Linked DNA regions of Homo sapiens. The protein of the gene in region 1 purifies or fractionates together with the protein of each later gene. This does not show direct contact. Each region holds a gene or a part of one and is shown on either strand. Other genes may lie near its edges.

What was found.
Region 2: the proteins of SDCCAG8 (region 1) and OFD1 purify together in Homo sapiens (affinity purification with mass spectrometry; 2 studies listed by BioGRID and IntAct, with this or other methods). This does not show direct contact.

Annotation. Positions count from the first base shown.
Region 1 is NC_000001.11:243,263,059-243,275,759, forward strand, and holds part of SDCCAG8 (serologically defined colon cancer antigen 8), read left to right. Parts: intron 1-4,562; exon of another isoform or gene 4,563-5,115; intron 5,116-7,033; exon of another isoform or gene 7,034-7,046; coding exon 7,047-7,199; intron 7,200-7,919; coding exon 7,920-8,005; intron 8,006-11,484; coding exon 11,485-11,598; intron 11,599-12,701. UniProt on the Homo sapiens protein: Plays a role in the establishment of cell polarity and epithelial lumen formation. Also plays an essential role in ciliogenesis and subsequent Hedgehog signaling pathway that requires the presence of intact primary cilia for pathway activation.
Region 2 is NC_000023.11:13,751,001-13,759,612, forward strand, and holds part of OFD1 (centriole and centriolar satellite protein OFD1), read left to right. Parts: intron 1-248; coding exon 249-368; intron 369-1,703; exon of another isoform or gene 1,704-1,717; coding exon of another isoform or gene 1,718-1,830; intron 1,831-2,367; coding exon 2,368-2,441; intron 2,442-4,150; coding exon 4,151-4,242; intron 4,243-5,577; coding exon 5,578-5,767; intron 5,768-6,659; coding exon 6,660-6,790; intron 6,791-7,336; coding exon 7,337-7,448; intron 7,449-8,612. UniProt on the Homo sapiens protein: Component of the centrioles controlling mother and daughter centrioles length. Recruits to the centriole IFT88 and centriole distal appendage-specific proteins including CEP164. Involved in the biogenesis of the cilium, a centriole-associated function.

The DNA.
Region 1 (12,701 bases):
CACTCCTGTGGCAGAATAGCTCACTGTCACGCTCATTTTCCATCAAGAGGCGGCAACACTTACAATGTAATGTGGTCAGAGTGATAGCAAGTCTCCCCTCAACACTGAAAACTCTTGTTTTATTGATCTCGTTTTATTGACTTGAAAACTGTCTTGTTTTATTGATTTTTTTTTATTGTCACAATTGGGGGTGGAGATGAGTGCTGCTGGCCTCTGGTAGGCAGAAGCCAGGGATGCTATTAAACTGGCACAACACAGCCCCTTCCAAAAGAGAATTATCAGGTCCAAACTGTCAATAGTGCTGAGGTTGAGAAATCACGATCTAGAAGTACAGGCTTTGCTTGTAGCCCTTGATCTGCAAGAATCCTACTTTACAGTAATTACAAGTAAGGATATACAGATTGTATTTGCTGGTGATTTTACCTATGTTCTTTGCCAGCCTGGCTAGGTTTACTTCTTTTATCAGTGGAAAGTGACAGGTGCATCAGTCCTCTCCACTGATGCCAAAGAAATACCAGGTGTATCCCTTAGAATGCATATAGCCAATCTCCTGGATTTGCCAACACCCACATATCTTTAATGGTCTTCCAGACATTGCTTTCTTAAGATGTTTACATTCTTTATCAGATTATCTTTTACTCCTGGCGCCAACCACTTTAGCATGTTTTCAGTTATTAGAGTCTTAGGATAGTATTTTCTTTGAGATTCAAACAAAAAAGTATTCTACATAGTACTTGTAATCTCTTTCACAATTGTAATTGCCTTTCACAAAGCCGACATTGTCTGATTTTTTGATTCTGCTGTTTATATCTTGGTAGTGTTACCTGTTGGTCCCCTAGTAAACAGTGACAGCAATCTTCTGAACCAGGCTGAGGCCCAGTCAAGTGTAGATAGACATGTATTTCTTATCTCACTGTGGTTTTATTTTTCTGCATGTCTGCCCTAATCAAAGCTTGTGCTGGGAGCTGCAGTGCATCTCATATCTCGGCCTCGGGAGGAATGGTTCATTGCATATTCTCTCAGAGACAGCTGGGCGCTTCGCAGGGAGTGGTCCCCCTCCCTGTCACCAGGGCAATTCTCTTTCACATCTCCCAGGACAGATGGAGAATGAAGAAATTAATAATTCATAGTGTGTATTTAAGTGGTGATTCTTCCTAGACTGAGACATACTTGCATTTTGTTCAAAAACATCTTGATGAAGACAGGCCCAGTGGTGACCTAAGAGTTAGAACATAGGAAGTAGGGAAACTCTTACTAAGAAAATGGACAATACAGGCCAGGCAGGGTGGCTCACGCCTGTAATCCCAGCACTTTGGGAGGCTGAGGCGGAAGGATCACCTGAGGTCGAGGGTTTGAGACCAGCCTGACCAACATGGAGAAACCCTGTCTCTACCAAAAATACAAAATTACCCAGGTGTGGTGGTGCATGCCTGTAATCCCAGCTACTCAGGAGGCTGAGGCAGGAGAATTGCTTGAACCTGGGAGGCGGAGGTTGCAGTGAGCCGAGATTGCACCATTGCACTCCAGCCTGGGCAACCAGAGCGAAAACTCCATCTCAAAAAAAAAAGAAGAAAGAAAATGGACAAGACAGACTGAAATTAGCTAGCAGCCATTAGCTCAGGTACCTTTTAAGTGCTCATTGTACTGATTGATGTTTGGATAGTGCATTAGCAGAAATATTATCTACTTGCACTTACGTTCATGTGATCTGTAGGACTCAGGGGTCCTGTTTGTGTCTGTAGTCATAGTTAAGTTTATAGTCAGTTCCTGGTTGGTGCTGGGGAAAAGAAATCAGGATGCATTCATTGTGAAATACCCTTACTGTCCTCTCAGGAGAGAAGAGGAAATGAGTGTGTTCTCTCTCTTGGTTAGAAACAGATAAAGCTGTGTCCCATTAGCAGTTGGATAGGAAACGGTAACTGGAACCTTCTGTCTAATCTGGTTTCCTTAAATGTAAGGAGCAGATAACTGCATCTGGGGAGTAGTGCTCTTAATAAGGATTATGGGGGCTTCAGTTGCAATGGCTCCAGTTGAAGAGCCATGGGATTTCATCTGTCCTGAATCATCTGAGTGTTATTCTTCTTCACATTAACTGTGTTTATCTGTTATAGTATATAATTATGCTGGTTTGTTATGTATTTGAAAAGCACTTAGCATGTTTTGAAATGTAGCGTTGAAATGACTTTAAAATGTCAACTCTGTAGTTTTAGTTTTAGGGCACAGTTCTTGCAAATTCCTGCTTTTCCTCTCTGACCCTAGTAACTCTGAAATCAGTAGTTGCAAACAAACAAACCCTAAAGCCTTGTGTGTCACTTTTCTTTGGGATAGTTGTTGAATTCAATAGCTCATTATTTCACGTAATATTATGTTCATAGTGCAATTTAACATGTAGTCTTTGAATGTTATAAATTCTAAAAGATTAAACAAGAACATTAGAAAAGGAATGAAAAGTGCTCTTAAAATCCTGCCCTAGGCCGGGCATGGTGGCTCACTCCTGTAATCCCAGCACTTTGGGAGGCCAAGGTGGGTGGATCACCTGAGGTTAGGAGTTTGAGACCAGCCTGGCCAACACGGTGAAACCCCATCTCTACTAAAAATACAAAAATTAGGTGGGTGTGGTGGCGCATGCCTGTAATCCCAGCTACTCGGGAGGCTGAGGCAGGAAAAATGCTTGAACCTGGGAGGCGGAGGTTGCAGTGAGCCAAGATCGCACCATTGCACTCCAGCCTGGGGACAACAGGGAGACTTCGTCTCCAAAAAAAAAAAAAACTCCTGCCTTTCTTGTAATCTGATGAAAGAACTCTGCCTACAGAGGCTTTTAACTATGCAAATTCTTTCCATATTTTTTTTCTTTTTCCTAATATAGTTTATTAGCTTTTACTCAGACTAGGTATAAATAAATAATTATCCCTTGCCTTAGAGGTGAAGTCATTTGAAAGCTCCATGGAATACATTTCTTCTTTAAAAACGCAACAAAAATTTTTTATTGTAAATTGACAATTTATAATTGTATAAATTTATGGGTTACAAAGTGATGTCATAAATTGTGGATACAATGTGGAATAATTAAATAAAGCTAGTTAACATATCCAATACTTCCAATACATTTCTGTGATGAGAACATCAATTTTGAAATGTGTAATACTCCATTATTAAGTATATGCACCACACTGTACAATAGAACTCAAAAAAAGTATAAAACATATTCTTCCTGTCTGAGATTTTGTACCCTTTGACCATCACTGAATTTTTTTTTCTTTTTCTTTTTTTTTTTTTATGAGACAGTCTCACTCTGTCACCCAGCCTGGAATGCAGTGGTGTGATCTCGGCTCACTGCAACCTCCGCCCCCCGGCTTCAAGCAACTCTGTTGCCTCAGCCTCCCCAGCAGCCAGGACCACAGGCACACAACACCACAACCTGCCAACCTTTTTTGTATTTTTAGTACAGATGGGGTTTTGTCACGTTGTTCAGGCTGGTCTTGAACTCTTGACCTCAGGTGATCCACCCACCTTAGCCTCCCAAAGTCCCAGGACCACAGACATGAGCCACTGTGCCTGGACTAAAATTTTTATGAGACAAAATATCAATTTCAAAACAGCATCAAAAAGTGAGTAGGCCAGGCACGGTGGCTCATGCCTGCAATCCCAGCACTTTGGGAGGCCGAGGTGTATTTTTCTGTACTAAAAATACAAAAGTATTTGTCTCTATTATAAATACAAAAAAAAAAAAAGAAATTAGCTGGGCACTGTGGCACATGCCTGCAATCCCAGCCACTCAGGAGGCTGAGGAAGGAGAACCATCTGAACCCTGGAGGCAGAGCCACAGTGAGCTGAGACTGCACTACTTGCACTCCAGCCTGGGCAACAAGAGTGCAACTTCGTCTCAAAAAAAAAAAAAAAAAAATGCTGGGCGCGGTGGCTCACGCTTGTAACCCCAGCACTTTGGGAGGCCGAGGCAGGCGGATCACAAAGTCAGGAGATCGAGACCATCCTCGCTAACACGGTGAAACCCTGTCTGTACTAAAAGTACAAAAATTAGCTGCGCGTGGTGGCGTGTAACTGTAGTCCCAGTTTCTCGGGAGGCTGAGGCAGGAGAATGGCGTGAACCTGAGAGGCGGAGGTTGTAGTGAGTGAAGATCGCACCACTACACTGCAGCCTGGGCGACAGAGCGAGACTCCGTCTTAAAAAAAAAAAAAAGAAATATACATGATAGGAATTCCAGGAATCTTATGGATTCTTCTTTTAAGGTCCCGGTCACTGGGCGTGGTGGCTTACGCCTGTAATCCCAAGACTTTTGGAGGCTGAGACGGGCGGATTTCACCTGAGGTCGGGAGTTTGAGACCAGCCTGACCAACGTGGAGAAACCCCGTCTCTACTAAAAAAAAATACAGAATTAGCCGGGCGTGGTGACAGGTACCTGTAATCCCAGCTATTGGGGAGGCTGAGGCAGGAGAATCGCTTGAACCCGAGAGGCGGAGGGTGCGGTGAGCCGAGATTGCGCCATCGCACTCCAGCCTGGGCGACAAGAGCCAAACTCCCTCTCAAGAAAAAAAAAAAAAAAGTCCCGGTCAACTGTGGGCACAATGTAACACTTACACACACTTAGGCTGAGTTACTCTCTGTACTAAGCAGTCATGTGCATAGGTTCCTGTGTGTGTACATGGTAATTGTTCAAATCTTGGATCCTTGGCGATCCTTAGAGCCACTCAATACTTCTGCCCCAATTTCTCAATTTCAGCCATTACACAATCAGTTATACAAGGGATACACTTGACATGCAGACAGCCCATCATTGACTGCACTAAGTCCAGTTTGGCTTTTATGGAAAAGTTGATAAAGTTGGTATCAACGAGGATGTGGTAAGGTGGGCCCAGCTGTGTATTATATTGGCAAAATAATCAGGAAAGGTGTTGCGGAACTTCTCTTTCCTTTAACGCGCTGGGATCCTTCTTTTCTTTCTCTTTAGGTTTTAATCTATCCTTTTCTTTAAGCCTCTGATCTCTGAGACTAAGCGTTTGCTTCATGGTTGTATAGTTCCTCATTTTCTTTTGCTTCCTCATGGTCACACCACACTCCTGTTTCTTCCGTAATCACCAACGGTGCAATGCTTTTACCTGGAATACATTTTTATGTTAGTCAAACTGTCTCGTTCCTTTCTAATAGATTCAATAAAGATAAGTGTTTTATTCGTGGATTTAAGGGCATAAATCTAAAGCTCCATGAACTGAATTGCTTATCATGTAACACTTTGATTTTCCTTTTCCATGACCAAATCGCTTTTCTATTCTATTTTCTAATACTAAGTTATTGTAAAACTATCACAGTTTCATATATTCCCAAAACCAGGAATGCGTCTTATCTGAACTTCCTTAAACTCATGATGAGTCAGAGGAGGCCAGTTTTCATTAGTAATCAGCGCCAAATTCATTTCAAAGAAAGATCTGTGTGGACATAGGATTGGTATGGAGAAAAATATGGTGATAAATTAACTGTGTCTCTTGTATAGTTGAGTAATAGAATTTCATTGTCGAACCCTGACCTGAAATACATGTTTTCTTTTATCAAAGTAGAAAATGAGTTGCTGCAAGTAAAGAAACTGTATTAGATATTGTATAACAGAGACTTTTTTTTTCTATTAAGTACTAACATTGCTTTTGTTTCTGTTCCAAACTTTGAAATCAGTGCACTTGGACAAAATGGAAACTGCTTTTCAAGGTCCTACAGAATATATGTTTATAAATGTATTTTTATACATGGTTGGTAATGAATCAGGTCTCTTTCGTGCCATTGCAGTTAGAGGGCCTCTGGTGCTGGAGTCCTCTGGAGGACTGGGCTGTCAGAGTGGGGCAGCGGGGTGCAGCGCGGGGAGGGCTTTTCTCTTTCTTCGTGCCTCTGGTGCTGGAGTCCTCTGGAGGACTGGGCTGTCAGAGTGGGGCAGCGGGGTGCAGTGCGGGGAGGGCTTTTCTCTTTCTTCATGGGGTCTCAGGGCCTCTCTCTTCCTCTCCACGTATGCTCTTCACAGGTCTCTCCAGCAGGGTAGTCAGATATCTTACATAGCGGCTTAGGGCTCCCAAAAGCAAACATTCCAAGAGGAAGCAGAAGCTGCCAGTCCTTTTAAAGATGAGGCTTGGGTGTGACATGGTATAACTTTTATTGCATTCTATTGGTTAATGCAGATTACAGGCCCAGTCAGTTTCAGATTAGAAGAGAACAAGGGAATGAGGCTGGGTTCCTTGGAGGCTATTTTTTTTTTTTTTTTTTTCTGAAACAGTCTCGCTCTCTTGCCAGGCTGGAGTGCAGTGGTGCGATCTCGGCTCGCTGCAACCCCTTGGAGGCTATTTTTAGAGATGAACTATCACAGTAATATACCTTAAAATACTTCATTTTAGACAGTTTTTGTGTGTTCTAGGGGTGGTCAGTTGCACTAACCAAGAATCTATGAGGTGTGGTTGGCCAGCAGTATATAGAAAGAGCTGTACCGCCGGGGCTGCCACTATAAGCACTTCAGCTATGCAAATTTTGATCAAAACTAGGCCAGACATGTGGATGTCTCTTGGTGGGGGAGGGATTTCCTGTCCCCAGGGACAATGAGGCTTCCCTAGGTTGGAACTGGGTGTGACGCAGTCCCTTTTGCTGGCTCTTCCCACCTCCCCACTGCTCCTTTCGTCCCCCTCTGTCTCCAAGTTGGTAAAGGAGTCAGGCATGGTGGGAAGGAGAGCACTTCCCTTAGCAAGTTATTGTTTAATGGGAGCTGGTGGGAAGAGTTCTGTCATTTAATCCTTGCCGGTGGTGCTATATGTAGTGAAATCAACTGCTACAGTGGTAGGGGCCTTAGAGATCATCAAGTCCTACCTCTAAACCATGAAGTTAATCTTCTCTCACCATCTTTGGCACATCCCTCAGCAAGCTAGAAACAGAACTCTGCGTTTTTTCCATAAAGTACGAGAAATAATGATTTCACCTTTAAAAACTGCCTTCCTGAGTAAGTGTCCGTTTGGTCAACCAGACTCCATGGGTCCTAACTTTCGTCAGGTTGTTCTTGCAGAACATGCCAGCAGAAGCATTCACCAACTGACATGTGCCCTGAAAGAAGGCGATGTCACTATTGGAGAAGATGCACCAAATCTTTCTTTTAGCACCAGTGTGGGAAATGAGGACGCCAGGACAGCCTGGCCCGAATTACAACAGAGCCATGCTGGTGAGTGTGAATGTCAATCCTAGTCTGAATGATGCATAGTGAATTTTTTAAACTCCGTAGAATAATAACTCCATTCATTCTTCATTCTGCTGCTATGATGTTATTCCTCAAACACAAATCAGATAATTTAATTCCCTCGCTTAATCTTGTTTTCCTTTGACTTCCCAATGCTTATAGGCTAAAGTCCAAAATTCTTAGTTATAAAATAACAGTGTTTTCCTAAGATAGCTCTAACCTGCCTCTTCGGCTCATCTTTGTGTACTTCTCATGCTAATCATCCATCTCACAACTCATATTCTAGTTATAATAACCTCCTCTCTATGCTTTTATGCTTTGACATGTGCAGTGACTTCTAACTGGAATTTTTCTTATCCTTTTCTGCTTGGTGAACTCCTTCCTGTTTATCCTTGCAGTGTTATCTCCTCTGTGAAAACAAGCACAATTAGCTTCTTCCTCTTCTTGTAGCACTGTGCATAGCTTTAGGTCTACATACAAACTTATTTTATATCTATTAGTGTCTCTCTCTTCCTTGCTAGATTCTTAGCTCTTAAGGGGTAGAAATTCTTTTTTTTTTTTTATGTTGGTCTTGTATCCCCAGTTGATAGCAGAATTCTTGATGCATAATATATCAGCAATTTTTATTAGTTGGAAGGATGGATGGGTGGTAAGAAACCATGGATCTCAAATAAGGTTAATAAACCCTCTGCTTTTGCTCTATAGTTAATCAGCTCAAAGATTTGTTGCGCCAACAAGCAGATAAGGAAAGTGAAGTATCTCCGTCAAGAAGAAGAAAAATGTCCCCCTTGGTAAGTATCAACTTTTCCAAGTTGACAAAGCATTCCTGTGTTTTACTGTATTGTGTTATTTTGTAGTACATGTTGCAGAAAAAATTTAAGCATGGCATACTAATAGTGAAAAACATTAAAAGTAATTCTCTTCCCTCTGATTATTTTGGCTGAAAAAATAGATTTCCATGGCAGAGGGAATCTTGATTTTTTAAATTTATTATTCACTTGGAAAATGGGAGCAAGGGAATAGTTTGGAGAATTTATTTTGCAACTGTTAGCAAAATATGTAATATAAATATATAATATATAATAAATTAATATAATAAATTATATGTCAGAATATATGTAAAAGATAAAGTCATTATTTTAGTAATTTCTTTTTTAGAGGGTCATATCTATTATTGATCATTTTTAGAAGTTACTTAATTATAATTGTAGCCCTACTTTGTAATATTTTTTAAATTTTGAGTGTCAAAATAATACATTTTATTTTTAATTAATTAATTAATTTTTTTGAGACAGAGTCTCATTCTGTTGCTCAGGCTAGAGTGCAGTGGCATGATCTCGCCTCACTACAACCTCTGCCTCCCTGGTTCAAGCGATTCTCCTGCCTCAGCCTCCCTAGTATTTGGGTTTACAGATGTGCACTACCACACCAGGCTAATTTTTTGTATTTTTAGTAGAGATGGGGTTTCACCATATTGGCTAGGCTGGTCTCGAACTCTGAACCTCAGGAAATCCATCAGCCTCGGCCTCCCAAAGCACCGGGATTATAGGTGTGAGCCACCGCGCCTGGCCTCAAAATAATACGTTTTAATATGTAATGTTCTATATGTTAAAATATATGGTTATAAAATAGTATGATATATAAGAAGTGGTGCTGTATTTCTTCTGAAGTTGTTTGTTATTGCTTTGACAGAGTGTATTATTTCTGATTAAAGCATTTTATATGCTAAAGGCTGAGATAGATGTGAGTGAAAGCACTCTGGACCAGATTTAAGTGGACAAAATAATAGTCAAGGGCTTAGTTCTATCTAGGGTCTATCACATACTCTCTAAGATATTGTGCCTGTCTCACAGAGTTTTTGGAATAATGAGATAAGATTACATACTTAAAATTCTTTAGAAACCTATGAAGTGTTACATAAACATAACATGCATAGCAGCAAGTAACCACCTCACATTTTCAATGTGTTTTCTAGTTCAATACAATGCCTGTATGCTGAAAAGTGTGGAGACATGTCACTTTCTTTTCTTCACCACTGAAATATCAGAGTATCACTCCCATACGAACACTCCATTCCAGGCTGACACATACTTTTAAGCTTAATTCCTACTTTAGAGAAATGTACTTCATATGCATATTCTAAATTTATAGATACAGATTTTATAATTTTAGTAAAACATCTCATCATTTAATGAATTTATTACTATTGACATCTGGTTTCTAGCTTGCTCTTAAGCACAGACTGGTGGAATGCTTTTAAATCTACTAGATGAAGTTGCTTTATCTGTTGAATGCTCAGACATGCTTATTTGCCTTTTAAAGTCTGAGCAGTGATATTATGGAGCTTACTGAATCCAGACAGGCAGGAAGACCTTCACTAAGAGAATCAGTTTAGTACATACAGAGTGCACTTTAAAATACACAAGTCTATTTATATGGAGCTATGTAAAAGAATGGAACTTAGACTCTATATGTATACAGCCTACATGTAATAATTATAAACCATAATAGTAATAATTAGCTTTTTAAGATTATACCTTTAGAATGCACTTTCATAGCCAGTATAACATATTAGAAATACATGCATATATTGAGAGTAAAACTGAGGCACTGTTGAGATGGAAAAAAAGTTATTACTTATTGTCTTAAAATGTAGATATCTAAACTAAAGCCCTTCAAAGTAGACACAAATGATTTCATGTGAACATTTTTCATACAATATTGGCTTGAGCTTTTTATTTTTCACATTGACTTCCTCCTGTATACTCATAGTAGTAATTTATATTTGCCTATCTTCTGAACCTATTGCTATTAATGGAGGATGATTATAATTGTTTGATTTCTACTCAGGACAGATAATTCATTTAATTAGAGTTACTTTGGTTTTTAAATTTCTTAAATATACCAAAAAACCAAAGCTCTATTTTATTTTATTCTGCCATGATAGCTGGTACTTGATTATCATTTAAAATGTCTGCTGTGCTGAGAAAGAGAGTGGCTGAGAAACAGACACTGTGCCTCATTTCAAGCTTTCCTCTGGCTTTGTTTAACTGGTTGACCCTTGTTTTACCTTTTCCTGATTTCCTCATCCTTTAAAAAAAAAATTATGTGATGGGTATATGATTTTACAAACTATTTTAGGATAAGGTAAGCTATACATTAACAGTCAGTTCCAGGAATGCTACAGAGCTAAAATAGCATTAGCGTTTTTTTGAAATCTCTTCGTTGGACCCCTCAATGCAGTGTGTCTCTACTTTAGGGTTCTACTCTTGGAGGTTCTATGCTCCAGAACACCATACACTTGAATTGCCTTCAATACTAGAGCCAAAAATCAAAAACTACATTTTGCTAATGTATCTTTTTTGAGATGGAATTTCATCGCATTGACACTGGCTTGGCATCAAACGCTTCCTAAAGAATCTCTCCTTCACGGAGCTGCTGCAGTTTTAGCTAGCAAATCCTCTTCCATGGCAGTTTCTTGGAGAGAGTTGTCCCTTGTATCTCAGCATTACTGAATGGAATGTTGTTTTTCCAATTTGTTAAAATAGTTTATTCCAAGCCAGTTATACTACTGCTACCCCAGCATTTTTCCATTCACTATATGTGCTTTTTATAACCACTTTCACCATCCATCTTTAAAAAAAATGATATTCACATCCATGAATCTTGTGTATTTGTGGAATTTATAGGATAGAGAAGCAAGTATTTGTATTAGTCCATTCTCGTGTTGCTAAAAATAAATACCTGAGGCTGGGTAATTTATTTAAAAAAGAGGTTTAATCAGCTCATGGTTCTGCAGGCTGTATAGGAAGTGTGATACTGGCATCTCACTCTGGTGAGGGCCTCAGGAAACTTTCAGTCATGGTGGAAGGTGAAAGGGGAGCAGGCATTTCATGTGGTGAGAGCCAGAGCAAGAAGTGGGAGAGGTGTCACATTCTTTTAAACAACCAAATCTCACCAAAACTCAGAGCAAGAACTCATTATCATGAGGATAGCACCAAGATTCATTCATCATGACCGAAACACCTCCCACCAGGCCCCACCTCCAATGCTGGGGGCCACATTTCAACTTGAGGTTTGTGGGGGACAAGCATCCAAACTATATCAAGACTATAAGCTACATTGTGATCGATTCTATGTTTATATCACATCAGTGCAAAATTGAGTATGGAGAAGGTAACAACTGATTCTTTGCTAAATCCAAACATGCTTAATTTGGCTTTTTAAAATTTATGTATTTATGTATTTATTTATTTATTTTTTGTCATAGAGGTCATTAGAACATGAGGAAACCAATATGCCTACTATGCACGACCTTGTTCATACTATTAATGACCAGTCTCAATATATTCATCATTTAGAGGCAGAAGTTAAGTTCTGCAAGGTAAGTTTCTCATTAAGAATTTAAAACTAAATAAATGAAAGCTTATATTAACTATAGATTGTATTAAAATTTGCTGCTATAAATCTTCATGTTTGTAGCAATACATTGACAATTGCTATTCTTACGTGATTGAGAGACTGATGTGTCACAAGAGCTTGTCAGACTTGGGAATGATGCTCTTGACCATACCATTTCTGATTGCTTGATTTCCCAGTAGTTCATTACTATGTCTAATGATTTCATAATATGCTTTCATATTTCAGAAGTTTTCCTTCTCACCCCGCTTGCTGTAGCCCAGCAAATGGCAAATGCTTTGGAATACAAATACCAATCATTCTCCCATACTTGTCAACCTACTGGAGCAGTGGTACAGCAATCAGGGATTCTAAACTGGTAGACCAATTCTTCTCCGCTGTCAGTATTAAGGCTCTTACTTTGACTTTGAATGAGAATGGTTCATAGGGTACTGACAGTAATGATCAAGAAACCAAACACATCATATATAGCTTATGACACTAGAAGGTTATATGCTCAACTGCGTGCAGTTTGCTAATGTCATTAATGCTAATAGAGCCTTTTCATCTTCCCGAAGTATGTCGTGTTTTACTTTTTTTTTTCTGTTTCTTTCTCTCTTTCTTTCTTTCCCTCCCTCTTTCTTTCTTTCTAGTATCAGTGTATTCGATTGTATGATATTTTTATAGGAATCACTGATATCTCTTGTATCATGTTTTTATATATAGTATATGATATTATGTATTATATTGTTGACATTTTAAGATGCAAGGCCAGTATGTAACTTAAGGAGGCTTTAGATGTTTCACTGTCCTGATTTTACCGGGGAGTTTCTGATCTTAACATGTAATTTCCTGTTTGTTCTTGGAGGACACAGTTATTAATATACACGTGGTCCTGGATTACCAGTAAAGCTGAAATAATATCCTAGGAACTATTTCATTAACAATACTCTATTAATCCCTAAGATGTTGTGGATAAAACTTGAAAGATATAAAGCAGAATAAATTTACTATCTAGTTGAGAAGACAGAACTATTCCCTATTAACACCATAAGGAGCACATTAGAGAACATAGTATAGGCCTTTACT
Region 2 (8,612 bases), on another chromosome or scaffold:
CCACTTCCCTCTTGAGACTCTCCCACTCCCCTCAGCCCAAAGCACAGTCAATTCTGCTAGTTTCAATATGCTGTAACTAGGTCAGTTCATAAAATACACTGAGGACTTCTGGCTCTTTCCTTCTACTTCCCAGTAGTGATATCATGTAGCAGTTTTAGTCTGTGGAACTAGACACATGTGATTTTTTCCTAAATTTGTTAGCTCAGCTATGGTAGTTTATTTACTTTTTATATTTTTGTTAATTTCAGGAACCAGAAGCTCCAGGAAGAAAAACATAAAAGCATAACTGAGGCACTTAGGAGACAGGAGCAGAATATAAAGAGTTTTGAGGAGACCTATGACCGAAAGCTCAAGAATGAACTTCTAAAGTAATTGTTTAGCATTTTTAAATAACTAATATGTTTAAATTAAATTGGTAGAAACATAACAAAAACTGACAAAGTAGTCTGTAACTTAGGCAAACTTTAGTGTTTGAAAAAAAAAAAACATAGTTTTATCGATACAGTCAATCCTTTCCTGCATTTGAGTTAGGATAGTTTTTAAAAGATAAGGGCCGGGTGTGGTGGCTCATGCCTATAATCCCAGCACTCTGGGAGGCTGAGGTGGGCGGATCACCTGAGGTCAGGAGTGCAAGACCAGCCTAGCCAACATGGTGAAACCCCATCTCTACTAAAAATACAAAAATTAGCTGGGTGTGGTGGTGGGCACTTGTAATCCCAGCTACTGGGGAGGCTGAGGCAGGAGAATCACTTGAACCCGGGAGGCAGACGTTGCAGTGAACTGAAGTTGTGCTACTGCACTCTACTAGCCTGCGTGACAGTGACAATCCATCTCAAAAATTAACAACAATAAAAAAATACAGAGAAGCACATCCTCTGCGCTTCTTATGGCTTCTCTAACGTTTATTGTGGGCTGTGATTTGCTTTAATTTTCAGGACACCTTGTGACTTGCTTAGCTTGCATAGTTGATAAGCTGTAAAATTGGAATTATAACCACTTTTAGTTATCTTTTCCTCTACCTCACTCATACAGTCAGAAGGATGGGGTTATCTGACAATATATAAATTATACTAGTGGTCATAGTATTTGTCAGTGAACATGTGCCTTGTATTCCTTCAAGATTCAGCAAAGCCAGAATCAAAAGAGCTAAAATTAACTATGTGAGGCAAAAAGTGATATAGGGAAAGGAAAATATGGACAACTATGGTAACTTTGGCTTTTCTGTAGTCTGAGTTTTGTGTATCAGTGAATAATATCTCAGTGCTACGACATTATGCCCATGTGGTAACATTTCTCTTCAGTGTGTGGGAAAGCATCTGGCACATAAAAAGTGCTCAGTTAATATTTGTTGTAAATGTGTCACGAGGAAATGATTCAACTCAGGTGCTCTGGGCATTTCTTATTTGGCCTCTTTTATTGCCTTTCTCATAATTTGTCATCGATATTCCATTACATAATATTGCAAAGGTTTCTTGAGGTAATCCTTTAAACAAATCCTATTTTTAAAAAATATGGCAGCTTTTTTATCTATTGATTTTGAAATGATGTATTTTACCCACATCTTCTATGTCAGTTTCTATACTAAAATAGCTAAAATGGAAGTGTCTGTAGTTGCTGAATTTTTAGGAATAAATGAATTAAAGTATGTGTGTTAATTTTACATAGTTATGGAGCTAGTGAACTATTTGGTGTCATTGTGACAGCTTCCACAGGCTGCATGGTGTCTGCCTGGCTTTGGGAATCCTCATATGACTTTGGCAGGTGTTGGAGTTTGGAGGCTCTTCGCCACAGGAGTGCTTCTATTTCCTTTTGGAACCAAAAGGGCAGCTGGTAACAGCTGGGAAAGGGAAGTGAAACTGTGAAAATGTGCCTTTTGGTATTGCTAATCCGGATATAATGCTCTTGGCAGTTGGCTCTCAGGACTGTGCTTAGTCCCTGAGCACAAAAGTTCTTACCTTGGTTGGGGGTGGGCAGATGGTACAGGTGGATTGGAAGTGACCGTCTGATTATCATTTGGGATTGAGTCTGTTGTGTGCTGTGTAAATTTAATTTACCCCTTTGCTCTTTGTGTCAGTTGAGACCAACTGAAAAGTGATTGCTTTCAGTAAGTAACCTTATGATAACACGACGCTTCATTTTGTGTGATTGAGTTTTGGGACCCAGTTTATAGGATCAAGGAAGGGTTTTACTGGGCATTTTATGTTCAGGGGTTATATCCCTGGCTTTAGTATTGAGGACTTTGAAGTTTACAAGTTGTCATGTTTAGCACCCTCAGGTGCTCCTGTGCCATAGATAAGCTCCTGCACTGATAACAGTCTTTCCAGAAAAATGCCTGAGGAGCTCATATTTAGTCATTCTGATTCTCAGGTATCAACTTGAACTGAAGGATGACTACATCATTAGAACTAATCGACTGATTGAAGATGAAAGGAAGAATAAAGGTGATGTTTGGGGGGAAAATAAGCTGTATTTTTCAGTTCTGCTGTAGGTTATTAGCTTCCCAAGTTGGGTCTTTTCTATATTCTAAAAAATACAGCTTACACTTCATTGTTCATACAAAATTACACATTTTTTGTAATTTTAATTTTATAAATTAAAAATCATGGTCTTCACTGCCTTTTGAGGAACCTTCATGTTTAATAGTTTGTATATTCACAAAGGCCAGTGATTTATCATGGATATTTTATCCAACTTTATTTCATATATTTTGATAAATCTGCAATTGTCAGGAACGTAGCAGCAACTTATTGCTGTCAAGTACGTATTACTCCTAACCATGAGAGACTTTATTTTTCACTTACGGAAAACTTTTAACTTCTCTGTCCTCTGTGACCTAGTTTCTTATTTCTTTTGCTTCTAATATATTTTTATGCTTTATAATATTTTTACTTGATGTATAACCTTCTGAACTCTTGTGTACATTGGCCTGAGACTATGGAAGTTGAATAATTTTTCAATCTTCAGATGTTTTACATTTCAGTGTATTTTTTTTTTTTTTTGAGACGGAGTCTCGCTCTGTCACCTAGGCTGGAGTGCAGTGGTGCGATCTCGGCTCACTACAAGCTCCACCTCCCAGGTTCACGCCATTCTTCCACCTCAGCCTCCCCAGTAGCTGGGACTACAGGCACCCACCAACACGCCCGGCTAATTTTTTGTATTTTTAGTAGAGGCGGGGTCTCAGCGTGTTAGCCAGGATGATCTCGATCTCCTGACCTCGTGATCCGCCCGCCTCGGCCTCCCAAAGTGCTGGGATTACAGGCGTGAGCCACCACGCCCGACCCATTTCAATGTATTTCTAGGAAATTGCTGTAACAAGAAGTTGAAGTTTTGGTGGAAATTTCAAGTAGATTCCTGGGAGGAAACCAGGGTTAGATAGTTGATGTTGACCAGATACCCAATGTGTGGCTACTGTCTTTTTTTTTTTTTTTTTTTAAGAGACGGAGTCTTGCTCTGTTGCCCAGGCTGGAGTACAGTGGCACAATCTCAGCTCACTGCAACCTCTGCCTCCTGGGTTCAAGTGATTCTTGTGCCTCAGCCTCCCAAGTAGCTGGGACTACAGGTGTGCGCCACCATGCCTGGCTAATTTTTGTAGAGAGAGAGTTTCACCATGTTGGCCAGGCTGGTCTCGAACTCGTGACCTCAGGTGGTCCGCCTGACTTGGCCTCCCAAAGTGCTGGGATTACAGGCGTGAGCCACTGTGCCCAGCCCCTTTTACTATCTTGTGGAGACTAATACTTCTTTTATGCATTAATACCATTACGTATGTAACAAATTATGGTTTGATGATATATCTACATAGACTTGTGTTAGATGAAGTGAAAACTACAAAATAGTAACTACAATATAGTAACAGACAGATCTTTGTCTTCAAGGAAGTTAAGAGCTGTGGGTATTAGGGCCCTGTGCTTTGAGCACATGGTATAACTCTGGTTAGCATGTATAGCAAGTGGAATTTCACCACATATATGACAGTTACAGCTTCACATCACCTGTTGGGTAACAGGGTTTATTTCTTACTTGCCCGCTACATCTGCTATTTGGATTGTGAAATAGTGGTCATTAGGTCTGACATACTGGCCATAAATATTAAATGGCTTTTGTATTCACTAGGAAAACATTATGGTGTTTAATTGGTGGGCTCTTTTTTCAGAAAAAGCTGTTCATTTGCAAGAGGAGCTCATAGCTATTAATTCAAAAAAGGAGGAACTCAATCAATCTGTAAATCGTGTGAAAGAACTTGAGGTAATTGTTAAGCATGTTGGTTTTTGAAATAGATTTTAAGCAATATATGAAATTTTAGTCATACATAATTTATCCTAAGTCATCCTGTTGAGATGTTTGGACTGCCATTTATATGGCTAAGAAGGTGTTAGCTGAAGTTAATTCAATAGTTCTTAATTTCAGTCAGTGTCACATAGGAAAGTGTAGATAGAGCTTTGGGTCCTGGAGTCCTGCCCACATCCTGTCTGTGTCTCTAACTGCTTGTGTGTCGCTAGGTAAGTTCTGTGACTGCAGGTTCCTGAGCTGTAAACTAGGATGTTTTCCACATTATAGGGTTGTTGAGGGAATTCAGTAAGCTAACTTATGTGCCTAGTTCATAGCAGGTGGCCATTACTATTAGTTTCTACATCAGCCTGTTATCTCCTTCCATCAGCAGCAGGTAAACAAAATTCCTGTCATTACATTGTTATCTTACAGATTAAAACAAAATGAGGTACATTTTTCACATATCATTGCTTCTTTACTTTTCTGTTCATTCGTGTGCTTGCTGTCTGAAGGATGAAGCTGGAACTTTAGGTACTTACAACATATTTTGTATATGAAATTTATTTTAGCAACTGTGACTTATGTGAGAACTTTGTAGGCTTTTTACTCAAATATGAGATATACTAAGAAAAGGGAAGCACTTCACAACATTTTACAGAATCTTTTTTCCTTTCTTTCCCTTTTTTTTTTTTTTTTTTTTTTGAGACAGAGTCTTGTTCTTTCGCCCAGGCTGGAGTGCAGTGGTGTGATCTTGGCTCACTGCAACCAACCTCCACCTCCCGGGTTCAAGTGATTCTCATGTCTCAGCTCCCAAGTAGCTGGGATTTCAGCCATGTGCCACCACACCCAGCTAATTGTTGTATTTTTAGTAGAGATGGGGTTTCACCATGTTGCCCAGGGTGGTCTCGAACTCCTGAGCTCAAGCAATCCTCTTGCCTCAGCCTCCCAAAGTGCTGCGATTACGGGCGTGAGCCACCATGCTCAGCCATTTTTATCTTACCTTTCATATTTAAAAAATATATATTGCTATGATGTGTGATTATTGTTGGGTTCTTGGTTGCCTCTGGAAAATGGGATGATAATCTTAGAAGGACTTGCTTCATGGGATGCGGCCTATAAAAGTTCTGCCCCAACTGTAGGGCGGAAGATAATTTTCGTTATTGTAGTTAGAGTCTTATTGTAGAGAATCAGACTTCTGTCTAGTGACCTTAATTAAATTGTGACACCATGCTTAAAGGAGCCTGCCAGCTTTTACTTTTGCAGTACTGTAAAGTCATTATTCAAATGTAAATTTTCCTTTTTGAATTTTAGCTTGAATTAGAGTCTGTCAAAGCCCAGTCTTTGGCAATAACAAAACAAAACCATATGCTGAATGAAAAGGTTAAAGAGATGAGTGATTATTCACTACTAAAAGAAGAGAAACTGGAGCTTCTGGCACAAAATAAATTACTTAAACAACAACTGGAAGAGAGTAGAAATGAAAACCTGCGTCTCCTAAACCGTATGTATTTTTCTTTTCTTCTGACTTGCGTGTTTTAGTAATTCGCATTAGGTCAGTATTATAAAACTATGCTTTGTACTTGTATAAGGTAGGGGGCTTACATTGGGAAGATTTATAAAATTAAGATTCTTGGATTAAACTCTGCAAACCTGCCTATAGGTGGTATCAAAGCTTCCCTTGCCCTCTGACTGCTGATTGGGTTTGGCCAGTGGGGACACCAGCCTCTACATACAGTGGCCCTAGGCTGGCCACTGTGCCTCATGGCCAAGTGAGGCCATAGTGCCTGCGATTACCTCTTCCAAGTGCTCTGCACCACCACCCTGTCTCTAGTGCTGAGAATTTCTCCCTCCTCTGATTCCCCAGGCCCAAGGAGCGCTAACAGTATGGCCCTGTTACTAGCCCACCCAGGGAACTCCACCATCCTTTGTGCATACCCTGAATAAGTCAACCTTTATTAAAGGGTTCTTAGATGACCTTGACCGTGAGAGCCATCTGCCTTCTGCCTGGATCCCAACTGCTGCTGTCAGATGCCCAGATCATATTGGATCCCAGGGCTGTCATCAACAGGTAGACCAGATAGAGAGCTCCTTCTGTGCACAGTAGAGGAGAGAAACAGGCTTTCAGGTTAATTTGAGAATTTGAAAGAGTTCTTTTACTTGGAGTAGGACTCCAAGGGTAATAAAGTTTGCATTAACATGCACTAAATTCTTTTGTTGTGAAATTTGAGAGTCAGGATTGCTCTGAGCTCATTTAATAGAATTATTATCATATTTATTGAGTCAGTACAAAGCAAAGAACACTTTAAAACCCCTTTAACTGTTTTTGTTAAGTTAAATAAGAAAACTTAAGGTTGGTAATGACTAGGATTTTTTTTTTTTTTTTACCTTCTTAGGCCTAGCTCAGCCGGCTCCTGAACTTGCAGTCTTTCAGAAAGAACTACGGAAAGCCGAAAAGGCTATAGTGGTTGAGCATGAGGAGTTCGAAAGCTGCAGGCAAGCTCTGCACAAACAACTGCAAGACGAAGTGAGTATTGCTCTTCTTCAGTTCTAGTGTGATACCAGTACACTTCATAGTTACGTAAACTTGGCACAAGTCACACTAGTGTAAATCAGATTTATTTTAACATCAAACATTACTCCCCCAAATATGCTAAAGGTATCCTTTCTCATCTGAGAAAATTCTGCAGTGATAACGTGACTTTATATTCGTAATAGTAATAAAATGGAGAAGAAAGCAAACTCACCTAAACATAAAATTTTCTGAGTGCCTGATGGTGCCCACTGTTATCTCTCGATTCTCACCCTGATAAGTATTACAAACATTCACTGTCTTCTGATTTCTGCCTGCATGCCCTAGAGTTCTTTGATATGACTGAAAAAGATGGTGAAGAACTTGTTTGTGTGTTCTGCTTGTGTTTTTTTTTAATAGGGACCCTGTTGTTTACTGTCATAAAGCTTCTTGGAATTGGCAGAACAAAAAGAGTACAAACATGATAAGAGAACTTTTCCTTTTGAAGCAAGCTGTGATTTGTTTTACATTGATTTCTTTTCCTATTCTGAATCTTTTCAGATTGAGCATTCTGCACAGCTGAAGGCCCAGATTCTAGGTTACAAAGCTTCTGTAAAGAGTTTAACTACTCAGGTTGCCGATTTAAAATTGCAACTGAAGCAAACTCAGACAGGTTAGAGACGTTTTAACCCATAAATATTTTTGTATGTATAAAGCTTCTGGTGTCTGTGAAAATGTAATGATCATAATTTATTGAATATTAATTATTGTTTTAGGGGAAAAGCCATAGAAATATGTGTCATCTTAGAAGTAAAACTCCCTATCCATTTTGGTAATACCATCTGGATCATCAGCAAAAGTATTTTGCTTCATAGGTGCCTCATGGCTTGGGAGAGTCTCATGCCCCAATAGGAAAGGCGTGGTGGTAACATAGAAGTCCCCATATTCATTATAGGATTTCCTTTTTTATTTGTTACCCCAATGTTAACACCAATTCAGTAGTTTTACGGATTCCTTGATAGATATATAAATATACAGGACAAGCAGGGTGGTTTAGCAAAAAGAATATTGCCTTCAGAATCAGAACTGTTCTTCTTTTGGACCCGTTTTGAAGTTGTTTGACCTTGGGCATGTTACTTTAACTTCCTTGGGCCTCAGTCTCCTCATTTGTAATGGGGATAATAATACCTACTGAGCCATGATGAAAAAGATGAAATGGGTTTCAGTCCAGTGCCTGGGACATAAAAGACACTCAGGAAATGGTTATTGGTATCATTTTATTATTGTGTCTTCACTGTGGATGCATCTCTGCCCCTTCCTACTTCGTAAGAAGGATATTAAAGTTCAGATACTTTATTCTTCAGTTGCTTTCAAGTTCAAAGAAAGTACGTATGTGTTACCAGTTCAACTGGGTCTGAGCCTTCCTTGTTCCCACCTGCATTGTTTCCTCATCAGCTCCTTGCTCTCTTCTACCAGCACTTGTTTTATTTTTATCTCTACTCGTTTCTGCTTTTTTCTGTTCCTCATTTTCTTTCAGTTCTGTTTGTGAAACTTCTCACAGCTGAAATCATAGCAGTCTCCTATCAATAAAAAATAGTTGAATGAGGATAGAACTCTTTCGCATGCATGTGTTGCCGAGGGCAAGCTTCTTTCTTGTAGCATCACGGGGAGGCATTGCAGGAGAGAGGGGCAGGTGCACTGGCTTTGCATTAGGAAAGCCCAGTAGCTCTTAGACTTGCTAACCGTGTGACCCAGCCTCAGTAAGCTTTAGTCCCCCCATCTGTAAAATGGGAGCAGTGAGAGTTTCTTGACCACAGTGTTGTTGTGAATGCAGGTC